4 separate regions of the Homo sapiens genome follow, and regions 1, 2 and 3 are each linked to region 4. Evidence: fine-mapped expression QTL. A gene starts in region 4. Each other region holds a variant in brackets. All regions are shown on one strand. Distances are between the middles of the regions.

The links. PIP is the estimated chance that this variant, and not a neighbour inherited with it, causes the effect.
Region 1: its variant is the best candidate, but not a certain one, in a credible set for the expression of CDO1 in sun-exposed skin (GTEx, PIP 0.60).
Region 2: its variant is the best candidate, but not a certain one, in a credible set for the expression of CDO1 in whole blood (INTERVAL, PIP 0.77).
Region 3: its variant is the best candidate, but not a certain one, in a credible set for the expression of CDO1 in subcutaneous fat (TwinsUK, PIP 0.59).

What each region holds. Positions count from the first base shown.
Region 1 is chr5:115,655,786-115,658,477 of GRCh38, forward strand. The region is part of intron 3 of LOC102467217 (a long non-coding RNA gene); the gene reads right to left. Among named protein-coding and RNA genes, the nearest start is that of TMED7-TICAM2, 31 kb to the left of the region's middle. The variant G/A (reference allele first, on the strand shown) is at 1,234.
Region 2 is chr5:115,786,113-115,788,804 of GRCh38, forward strand. No RefSeq gene overlaps it. Among named protein-coding and RNA genes, the nearest start is that of CDO1, 29 kb to the right of the region's middle. The variant C/A (reference allele first, on the strand shown) is at 1,369.
Region 3 is chr5:115,724,489-115,727,180 of GRCh38, forward strand. No RefSeq gene overlaps it. Among named protein-coding and RNA genes, the nearest start is that of CDO1, 91 kb to the right of the region's middle. The variant C/A (reference allele first, on the strand shown) is at 1,334.
Region 4 is chr5:115,815,353-115,818,044 of GRCh38, forward strand. CDO1 (cysteine dioxygenase type 1) reads right to left here and starts at 1,307. Exons shown (of 5, transcript NM_001801.3): 1 at 876-1,307. The coding sequence starts at 1,045. It overlaps LOC124901049 (a long non-coding RNA gene), which reads left to right and starts at 1,736. Exons shown (of 2, transcript XR_007058908.1): 1 at 1,736-1,819.

The sequences.
Region 1 (2,692 bases), 160 kb before region 4:
ATTACAGTGTATGAAATGTGAATATATTTTAATGAGGAATGTAAAGTAAAATAAATGTAAAAATCAAAACATTTAATTTAATTGTTGTCATGTTTTAAGAAGTTTCCTTCTGAAATATTTAAAATTATGTATTAGAATTTCAAGCAAAATAGAATGTACAGTGTAGTTAATATCAAAAATGTAGATCAAAAGCACTTAAAGTAAAATTTTTAATTTAGTTTTTTGAAAATGTAATTATCATCAAATATTATTATAAAATCAGAACTATTTGCATTTTAGCATTTACTGTCTATCTAATTGCCAGTATAAACCATCATTAAGAGATGTTACAGTTTAAGCCTAAATACCTGCAACTTTAAGAGACTATGAATTGTTTAATATTGCAAAATATTTCTCAGTTGATCTTTGCTCAGTGCAACTTTGTGAGTTTCCCGTTTCACTGGTACCTCTGGAATTGTGAATTGAAAGATAATGAAAAGGAAGAATATAGATGCTGTTTGACCTTACTGGGAAAGAATACTTCTACATAAAAGAATCTATTTTATTCTTGCTAAGAGGACAGTGTGAAAAGTTAATTAATTTGTCTTTTGTTTTTAAACTGTTACTACTGTTTAAATCTTCCTGCATTCTGAAGCTGTTTGTTTCTCTGATGTCAGCAGCAGTACAAACCACAAACCTTCAAGTTTATGGACACAGTGACTTTTTGTTTTAAGGACATAGGGGAAGAGAGGTGGAGAAGAATTTCCCTATGACCAGAATGATCCTGAAGGGTGACTGATAAGTGAATTGTGTGTGTGTGTTTATGATATGCAGAGCCCTCTACTGTGTGGATCCCAGGGCAGTGGCCCCTCTAGCTCAGGTGTAAGGATGGTCCTGTAAGGGATGACATATGGCAGAGGAGAGGTAATGAACATTTTCACTGTTCATCCTACTTGATTATCAGAGGGTTGAGCACTGTAGACTTTCATCGTCTTGAAACACCTTTTCCTTGTCTTTTGTTATACCACCCTTTCTGACTTTCTTCCCAACTCCTCAGCTACTTTTTCTCAGTCTCCTTTGCAAGACCATCTTCCTCAACCCAATATTAATGCACAACGAGGCTCAGTTTATAGGCCCTCTACACCCACAGCTTTAAATATGGTCTATTTGCCATTGATGACTACTCAGCATCTACATTTGGACATCTTTAAGGAACCACAAATTTTAACATTATTAAGATCCAATTCATATTTT[G/A]CTTGATATTTTATGATTGCCCTTCTAGATCCACTCTTCATTCCTTTCCATCCTTATGTGTGTCCTGAGAGGGTATCCTGTGGGTATATTCTACCTCAACAGACTCTCTTGTTGTATAAATTTCCTTTGCATTTGGATTTGGGTTTGAAGATTCCTGGTAGAAAATCTGAGGGAGGGCAAAAAGTAAGGTAGAGGTATTTGTTCCCTTAGCTACCTCCATCCAGGGTTGCCTAGGCCTGGGAGCAGAACCTCTTGCCCAAATATCTTATCTCCTATCATGTGACTTCCTAAACTAGGTTCCCATAATTGCTCCTTCTCTTTGCCTTTTGGAAATTCTACTATTTACAGTCCCAGAGTATTGCACTATTTCTCATGGTTTGTCCTACTCTGATTGCACTTTTATAAATAGTCCCTTCAAATTACCCAATTTGACTGCACCATCTTTTTCCCACTGGGAACTTAATTGGCACAGTAATTGATACTGTGACTGGTCCCAGAAAACAAAGTAAAATCCTTAAAATCCTGGACTGGATTGTGCAATATTTGAAGAGTACAGGGGGAATGGGGTATGGACAATCCTTGACATATAGTAGTATCACAGTTACTCAAACTGTCACTGGTGATGACACAGGAGGTCAAGGTTTTGGGAAATCAAGTAGCGGTAAAACTTGATTGCTACGAGTTCTACAGATCTTAGGAACTATAGTGTCATCTGGGTTGTTCTAAAGGCCCTAGGGAGAATAAGTAGGGACAAAGAGAAATGAAATTGCCAGATGAGAATTTATGTGGAAAATCAGAGAGCCCTGAATGCAACTTTAAAAGCACATCTTATTTCCAATAACTGCAGGAGGAGGTAGTTGAGAACTAAGCTTAGGATCTGATTATAAGGGTTGCAGCATTAATTAAATGCTCAAGTTCATGAGGCTTATTATATTAAAATATAGACACTTAGGGGGAATGAATGCAACCCTGTCCCCTGAGTCATGGAATGATTCATACTACTGCAAAGAAAGTATGACAATGCGTTCACACCACTGGAATTCACTAGTCTTGCCCATCTCCAAAAAGGAGCTGGATCACCAGAAGAGCAGAATAGCCTGCTGACCTCACAATTTTGGCACCAGCTAAAAGAAAGCACCTTCAAGGTTAGGGGGCTATCCTGCAAGATACGGCAAATGCCTTAAATGAGCAACATCTCTCTATATCTTTCTCTACAGGTAGAATGAATGGGTCTGGAGACCAAGCAAACATGTGACATTTGCAAAAATGTATAGTGTACAAGGCTACAAAACAAGGCTTAATAAATTCCTAAGAATGGATGCTATACAGCTTGTTCTCCGAAAAGAGTGCAGCAAAATTAGAAACCAACGTTAAAAGGAGATTAGAAACCCTCATATGTTTTGAAATTTTAAAAAACACTACAAAAACATTCATGGGTACAATATGGCAAGAGAAAAAA
Region 2 (2,692 bases), 29 kb before region 4:
ACTCTTGAACTAGGAATTTGAGACCAGCCTGGGCAACAGAAACTGTAATGGCTTTCCCTGGTGTATGTCATCATCAATCTTAAAGCTCAAATGACTATCTGAAGGTACTGCTACCAGAGCATTTTTCGATTCCAAAACTGCAAGCAAATATTTAAGTGCCAGGACAAAATCTACAGCAATAATAAAAAATATAATAGCTGCATTTACTCTACAGATTATCAAAGATCTAATGTCTCACCTTTTGTGGCATAGCCAAGTGTGAATAAAATAATCACGATCAGAAAAAAATTTCTTATTTCTTGTGCAGCATTTTTCCTGTAAAAAAGGATTGTTTATAAGACTATTGTGAGTAAAATCTTCCAGAGGAGACTTCAGGCACATTGGAAAATTTTAGTGGACTTTATTAGTGAACTAGGAATTCATGAGATAAATTGTATAGCTTTTGGTGGGGACCATGTAAATGTATGCATACAGGTACAGAAAATGTGTAGTCAAAGTTGAAGCAAAGCATGAATGATTGTATAGAAGATGTTGACTGTCCTGCCTGTATTCTGCATAATGCTGTTCAAATAGCATATGATGTTCCTTCTACTGATATTGTCACAAAATTGTTATGAAATTCTTCTCTTACTTCAGCATTTATGCAGCATGTCCTCAAATAACATCGTTTTGTTCAACATCATTCCCTTGTAACGTTGATGAAAAAAGTTGTCTAAATTGTCACAGTAGGAGTGTGTGTGAGAGCACCCTGCAGTGAGTTGGCATCCTGGCCAGCGTGGGTTCCCACCTATGCCCTGAGCTGCTGGGATAGGCTCCGGCCACCCTTGACTCTAAACTGGAACAATTGGGTAAATAATTATCTTGTTTGTATTAATCTTTCCCAATAGTATGTATAGCTCACATTTATTTCAATGTTTAGTATTAGAAGTGTTTTGGGTCTTTATGCAGAACTTTGATGATGTTTTTGTGACCAGAAACATGCCATAGAAACTTTACTCTTGTTTACACCAATCAGCCTATGGTGAATTAGTTTCATTATATGCAATTCCACTTAGTCACAGTTTCTAAGAACCTATGGAGGACCTAAAGTGAGGACTTACTATACTTATAAGCAGCGTTTTTCCATTCTATCAGATTCAAAACTTATTGGTCTCTTTAACGAATGTATTTGGGAGAATCCTCATATGAAATCATACTTTAATTCTGAAGGAAAGACCCCCCCCCAAATTCTTGTTGAGTACTTAAAAAGTTTATTAAGTAAAGGCTACTTATTTCTTTTTCATATTTTGCAATTACTTTAGCAAGAGGATTATGCAAATTAAAAGAAGAACATTTTTGAAGTAGTTGTTTAAGGAAATTATTAAATGC[C/A]TTAGAGAATGACTTGAAAAATTTATTCCTTTAATTATCAAAGTTGTTTTAATTTTATTTTGTTTTTATTTATTTACTTTTCTTGAGACATGGCCTTGCTCCGTCACCCAGGCTACAGTGCAGTGGTGCAATCACAGCTCACTGCAACCTCTGCCTCCTGGGAGCTCAAGCCATCTGCCTGCCTCAGCCTCCTAAGTAGCTACAAAACTTGTTTTTAAAAGTGGCAACATTACTTTGAACAAGAAAAGAAATTCCAACTTGGATTAATTCATTATTATGGCACTTATTATAACTATGTTTTGAAATTGATACCATCCCTTGAAGAATTTGATTCTTTTATAGAGATATTATTAAATACACTTTCGACATGGAAACAAGAGGAATCATCATATGTATTGTTGAAGAGGAAGGGAATAAAAATTCATAGCAATGCTCTTTTTTGACATTGGACAACATTTTAAAAGTCATTGATCAAGATGCAATATAATCCTTAAGAATAGAAAAGCAAGTTATGTCACCAAAGATGGTATGTTCTTCAACAAATTAAATTCCAAGAGTACTTACTGGGATTTTAATTTTAGGCCAGTACATGCCTAGAATACCAGCTCGTAATGAGCATGTTTTGTCATTGGTAAATGTTAAATGCACAAAAGAATAAAACTAGTTGGATGGGACCACTGTAGATGACGTGTTAAAATGGAAATGGAGTATAGATTATAACCACAAGGAGTTTTATAAGTAAATTCTGGAAAACAAAGAGCTGTTAAGGAGAGCCATTAGGGTGATAAAATTTTAAAAATGGATATGTAATTTTGATGGTTATTATTTATTTCAGATAAACAAGAAATACTTTTTATAGTAAAGTATGTCTTATGTAATATTTTTCATTTCTCTAAATGTATATATATAGGCAACTAGAAGTAAAACTTAACTGGGCATTCTGTTTTATTATTTGCTAACCTGCAACTGTATATTTAGCTCAAATTTAAGTTTTAGTAGAGATTGATTTTTATGTGTTTTATATATATAGCCATATATATACAGTTTATAATAAATTGGGGCACTTTATATATAATTTTGCCTGTTGTATAAGACTTAGTAATATTGCTTGCCTTTTATTGGTTATACAGGCTTAGCTATTTTAATCTTTGTTCTTACGCAATATCATTAGCAATATTATTCTTTTTTTCAGAATAGCATAGTTTTTAGCAGCTTTATTGAGAGAGAAACATACCATATAACCCACTTACTTGAAGTGTACAACTCAATGGTTTTTATTATATTCATATAGATGCAACCATGGCCACAGTCAATTTCAGAACAT
Region 3 (2,692 bases), 91 kb before region 4:
CAGACCACCAGAAGTATCCATGACCCAAAATAGATGAAAAACCCAGCTGAAGGTAGCTTGGGATCACAAAGAGAGCTTTAAATATCTTCATTAGCATTGTGAATTTAGTCTTGCAGGCAAATGGGAGCCACTGAAGGGTTTTTTTCTTTGTTTTGGGGAAGGTGTTTGTATTAGTCAGGGTTCTCTAGAGGGACAGAACTAATGGAATAGATATATATACATATAAAGGGGAGTTTATTAACTCACATGATCACAAGGTCCCACAATAGGACATCTGCAGGCTGAGGAGAAAGGAGAGCCAGTCCAAGTTCCCAAACTGAAGAACTCAGAGTCCAGTGTTCGAGGGTAGGAAGCATCCAGCATGGGAGAAAGATGTAGGCTGAGAGGCTAGGCCAGTCTCTCTCTTTTCACACTTTTCTGCCTGCTTTTTATTCTAGCCATGCTGGCAGTTGGTTAGATTGTGCTCACTCAGATTAAGGGTGGGTCTGCCTTTCCCAGCCCACTGACTCAATTATTAACCTCCTTTGGCAACACCCTCACAGACACACCCAGGATCAATACTTTTTTTCCTTCATTCCAATCAAATTGACATTCAGTATTAACCATCACAAGCCCACCCCTTGTCAACTTGAACACATCTCCTGAAATCATATATAATCTTCAAATAAAGACAATAATAAGGTCATAATTATGCCTAACATAATGCAAATATCCTTTGTACAACTGGAAATGCACCTATCTGCTTTAGACAGAGTCACTCTCTGTTGCCCAGGCTGGAGTGCAGTGGCACAATCTCGGATCACTGCAAGCTCTGCTTCCCAGGTTCACGCCATTCTCCTGCCTCAGCCTCCCAGGTAGCTGGGACTACAGGCACCCACCACCACGCCCGGCTAATTTTTTTGTATTTTTATTACAGACCAGGTTTCACCGTGTTAGCCAGGATGGTCTCGATCTCCTGACCTCGTGATCTGCCTGCCTCGGCCTCCCAAAGTGCTGGGATTATAGGCATGAGCCACCGTGCCCGGCCCCAAATACTATTACATTAAATTAACAATACTTAAATGCTGATGTGAAGTCAATAAATCTTATGTTACATGATAAAGGAGAAAGGAAATAAAATGAAGATATTTTCTGAGTACAAGCATATGCATGAAAAAACATGTTTTTAACAAAAGAAGGGGAAAATATTCATCACAATTCCAATCCTCATTTCTGCAGCTGGTCACGTGATCATAGCTGATATTGATGACTACTTTCTACTACCCATTCTGTATCCCCTTTGTCTTCAGCAAGCACCTCAGAAGGTCATGGCTTTTTTTTTCTGGTGGAGTGA[C/A]TCAAATCTTCATTCCTGAAGGATCTGGGTCATTTGTAGTCCTGCCTGGTTTGGGCTGTTGTAGTTTCCCATTGACCTTAATCACAGGGCATGGTAATACTAAGAGACACCCTAATGGACCTCTTGTAGTCCATGCATATTCTTCCTTACCTCCATTATGAAGTAGTAGACTGATTTCATCTTGATAGTCCAGATCAATTGTCCCATCCAACACTGTAACTCCCCTCTTAGCCTGTTGACTTAAAGGTAGGAGGAGCCCGAAGTGTCCAGGTGGCAATCTTAATTTCCAGTTTAATGGAATTGTTGTTGTGTCTCCTGGTGGCAGTGTTCCTCCCTCTGGAACTAAGACCTCTAGGCCAGCAGAATGTAATATCATGGGAACAGGAAGTAAAAATTTTCCTAGTGGATCACTAGAGGTGATGGTGAGTGGTGCCACTTCCACTTCCACCCCTTGATTCCTGGACCCGTGAATCCTGGCTATGGGAGAAACAGTACCATATATTGGATGCGAATTCAAAGTATACACAGCCTTCTGGAGAACTTTGCCCCAGCCCTGCAAAGTACTGTCACCCAGTTGGTATTGTAATTGTGACTTCAAAAGGCCATTCCACCGTTCTATCAATCCAGCTGCTTCAGGGTGATGGGGAACATGGTAAGACCAGTGAATTCCAGGAGCATGAGCCCACTGCTGCACTTCTTTAGCTGTAAAGTAAGTGCCTTGCCAGACGCAATGCTGTGTGGAATACCATGACGGTGGATAAGGCATTCCATGAGTCCATGGATGGTAGTCTTGGCATAAGCATTGAGTGCAGGATAGGCAAACCCATATCCAGAGTGTCTATTCCAGTGAGGACAAACCTCTGCCCTTTCCATGATGGAAAAGGTCCAATATAATCAACCTGCTACCAGGTAGCAGCACGAGGAATGGTGCCATATTGAGGGCTCAGTGTTGGTCTCTGCTGCTGGCAAATTGGGCACTCAGCAGCGGCTGTAGCCAGGTCAGCCTTGGTGAGTGGAAGTCCAAGCTGCTGAGCCCATGCATAACCTCCATCCCTACCACCATGGCCACTTTGTTCATGGGCCCATTGGGCAATGACAGGTGTGGCTGGGGAAAGAGGCTGAGTGATGTCCACAGAATGGGTCACCCTATCCGCTTGATTAAAATCCTCCTCTGCTGAGGTCATCCATTGGTGAGCACTCACATGGGATACAAATATCTTCACAGTTTTTGACCACTCAGAGAGGTCCATCTACATAACTCTTCCCCAAATTTCTTTGTCACCAATTTTCCAATCATGCTTCTTCCAAGTCCCTGTCCATCCAGACAAACCATTGGCTACAGCCCATGAATCAGTATAT
Region 4 (2,692 bases):
GCTGCAAAAAAGCCAGCTTACCAGGGCACCTCACTCAAGTACATCTGGGAAGTAGGGGTCTTTAATTTACATTACAGATCGTCAGAAGCAAGGATAAGATAAATCAGATCATTTGGGGGCTGAAAAAAACGACGGTCGAATATTTAATCTGCGAAACTTGGCAGTGGATTTGAATAAACCCACAGTCGGGGAAGTTAGTTAAATTGGTTTGGGAAAGGGAACAGCAGAAATTCCGTAGTGGCAGCTGACGGCCACAAGACGCTATTTTACATGAGTAAAAATGCTTGCTATAAGGTGCCCGGTTGCAGGCGACCGAAGGCGCAGTGATGGAGAACTGACGCGGGTGACTTGTCTTCTTCAACATCACACACTTCTCCCGATGGCTGATGTAGTGCTCCCCTGGGAGCACCCTCTGCTAGTCCGGCCAGACGGTTCCTTAAGGTGTCAGGAGGGCCCGAACCTGAGTGCGGTCTCTCCGCATCTCCGCGCCCGGGGTTAACGATGGCTTGGGAGTGTGGGCATTGCTCCCGAGGCCAGGGGCAGGAGGACTGGTGGTTTAGAAGCAGAGGGGTTTGCGGGAGAGAAGAGAACAGAAAATCTCGCAGACGCGCGGTGGCCTCCCTTCCCGGCGCCTGTCCGCCGTTCCCGGCCGGAGGTCAGCAAGGCCAGTAGGATCCACCTTCCGCCTGCGCTGTGGCCGCGGAGCCCCAAGCGAGTCGTGCCAGCCCCGCGGCTGGCCAGCGAGGGGGCGAGCGGCGGACGCAGCGCGGCCCGAGCTTCCCGAGCCAGTCACTTTGGGCTGCGTCCCCCACGTCCATTCCTCCTCAGACGGGGCGAGTGGGCGCCGCCTGGCATTGAAGCTGCAGCGCGCTCACCTGTACTGGTCGAACTTGGCGTACATTGCCCACTCGGTGGGGTCGCTCTCGTAGGCTTCCATGATGGCCTGCACCTCCTCTACATTGACCTCATCGCCGGCAAAGAGCTGGTGCAGGATGCGGATCAGATCAGCCAGGGTCCGTGGCTTCAGCACTTCGGTCTGTTCCATCTCGTGGGGAGCTGGCTGCGCGCGCGTCTCACTGCTGGGCTGCGGTGGAGGAGCTGAGCGAGCCAAGGAGCTGGGGGCGAGGGAGCCTAACAGCCCGCTAGACCGCTAAGCAGACACACACGCACAAACCCAGCATTAGAGTGCCGAAACGTAAGGATGTCGTCGCAGAGACAGCAAGAGACCCACCCCCAGGCCCCTGGCAGCGCAGTGGATCCGGGATCGCTGGAGACGCGGTGCACACACAAATCAGGTTCAGATCTGTGGGGTTCATCCTCCCGGGCCCCTTTTAAGCGCTTGGAGTCACTAGGAATGTACCAACGGCCCTCGGAGGGAGGACGAGGCGGAGAGCCACCCAAGAAAGGTGGCGGAGGCGGGGAGACCCTGCGGGCACGGCTCACGCGCACATCCCCGGCTTCCCCGGGCTCCGCGCCTTCCCAAGAGCCCCGTTGTCTCCGGCGTCCCAGGGATCGCGTGGGCTCCGCGCAATCTCTCCCCCACTTTAACGGCGCGTTTTAGCCGCCCGGCCTAACGCCTCTCCCCGCTCCACCTCCGCCGCTGTGGTTCGCGACGCTGGGACGTAGACAAAAAGGGTCGGAGGAGATGGCTGCGGGGACTGACGCTGAGTAAAGGAGGAAAAGAAAAGGGAAGGAGAGGGACACTTCTTCCAAATAGAGAATTGTGAGGAGCCTGCGAAAATTGAGGATGGATTCCACTCCTAGGCCAGAGAGTGCCTGTTTTGTCGATTGAAACTATCCACGATATGCCCCAGGCTAGGTGAAAATAAGTCCAAGACTTTATATATATATATATTTAAGTATACACACACACATATTTTTTAAAATGCGTACTGAAATATATTTTGACAAAGGAGACTCGGGTCTCTAGTAAGACAATTAGTGAAATGATGGAAAACCAAGAACTCTTTGATTTTAAAATCAAATATTTTCTTTTAAAAAATATCCAGTGCAAATAACCTGATATTTCATTTGATGGTGTAAAAGGGGGCTTTTTCTGAGGGGATAGGGCGGGCTCTGACGCAATAATTTAAGAGGCTATAATTATATTTGAATCTTTCAACCTTAGGCATGTGCTTGAAGGAGCCTGCTAGTACATACATATAAGGAAACACGTTTCTACGTCATGCATAGCACCTAGTACGTTGGGAACAACACAAATCAAGTACAGTAGGATTTAAATGAGAAAGATGTGAAAGGTGGAAGAAATGCAAGTGTAGATTTCTTCCTTCTCATTATGGATGGACGCAGGGAATAATTTGGATTTAAGGTTATTAAAGTTCTAGACTTCTGAAGACCTGTTTTTTTCTAGACTATGATCACCCTCCCTCGTGTATATACATGTATACAATGAAATTTACTTGTGCCAGGTAGTCTTAAACATCTCTGGTAAAACTCGCTACATTATATTCTAACAGTGTTGTTAAAAGCGGAATCACCTATTGTTCAAAAATGGCTACAAGTAGAAAGCATTCCAGAAGCCAGCCTTGGTGATGTGTGTTGCTGCGGGGTAGTGAATTAACAAAGTATTTTGTGACAGAGTAACCTGTAAACTTTTCATGGTTTCCTCAAATTATTTTTTATTCTTGGCAATGTTTTCTATTGAGTCTCTTAATTACTTCATTTCAGCTAG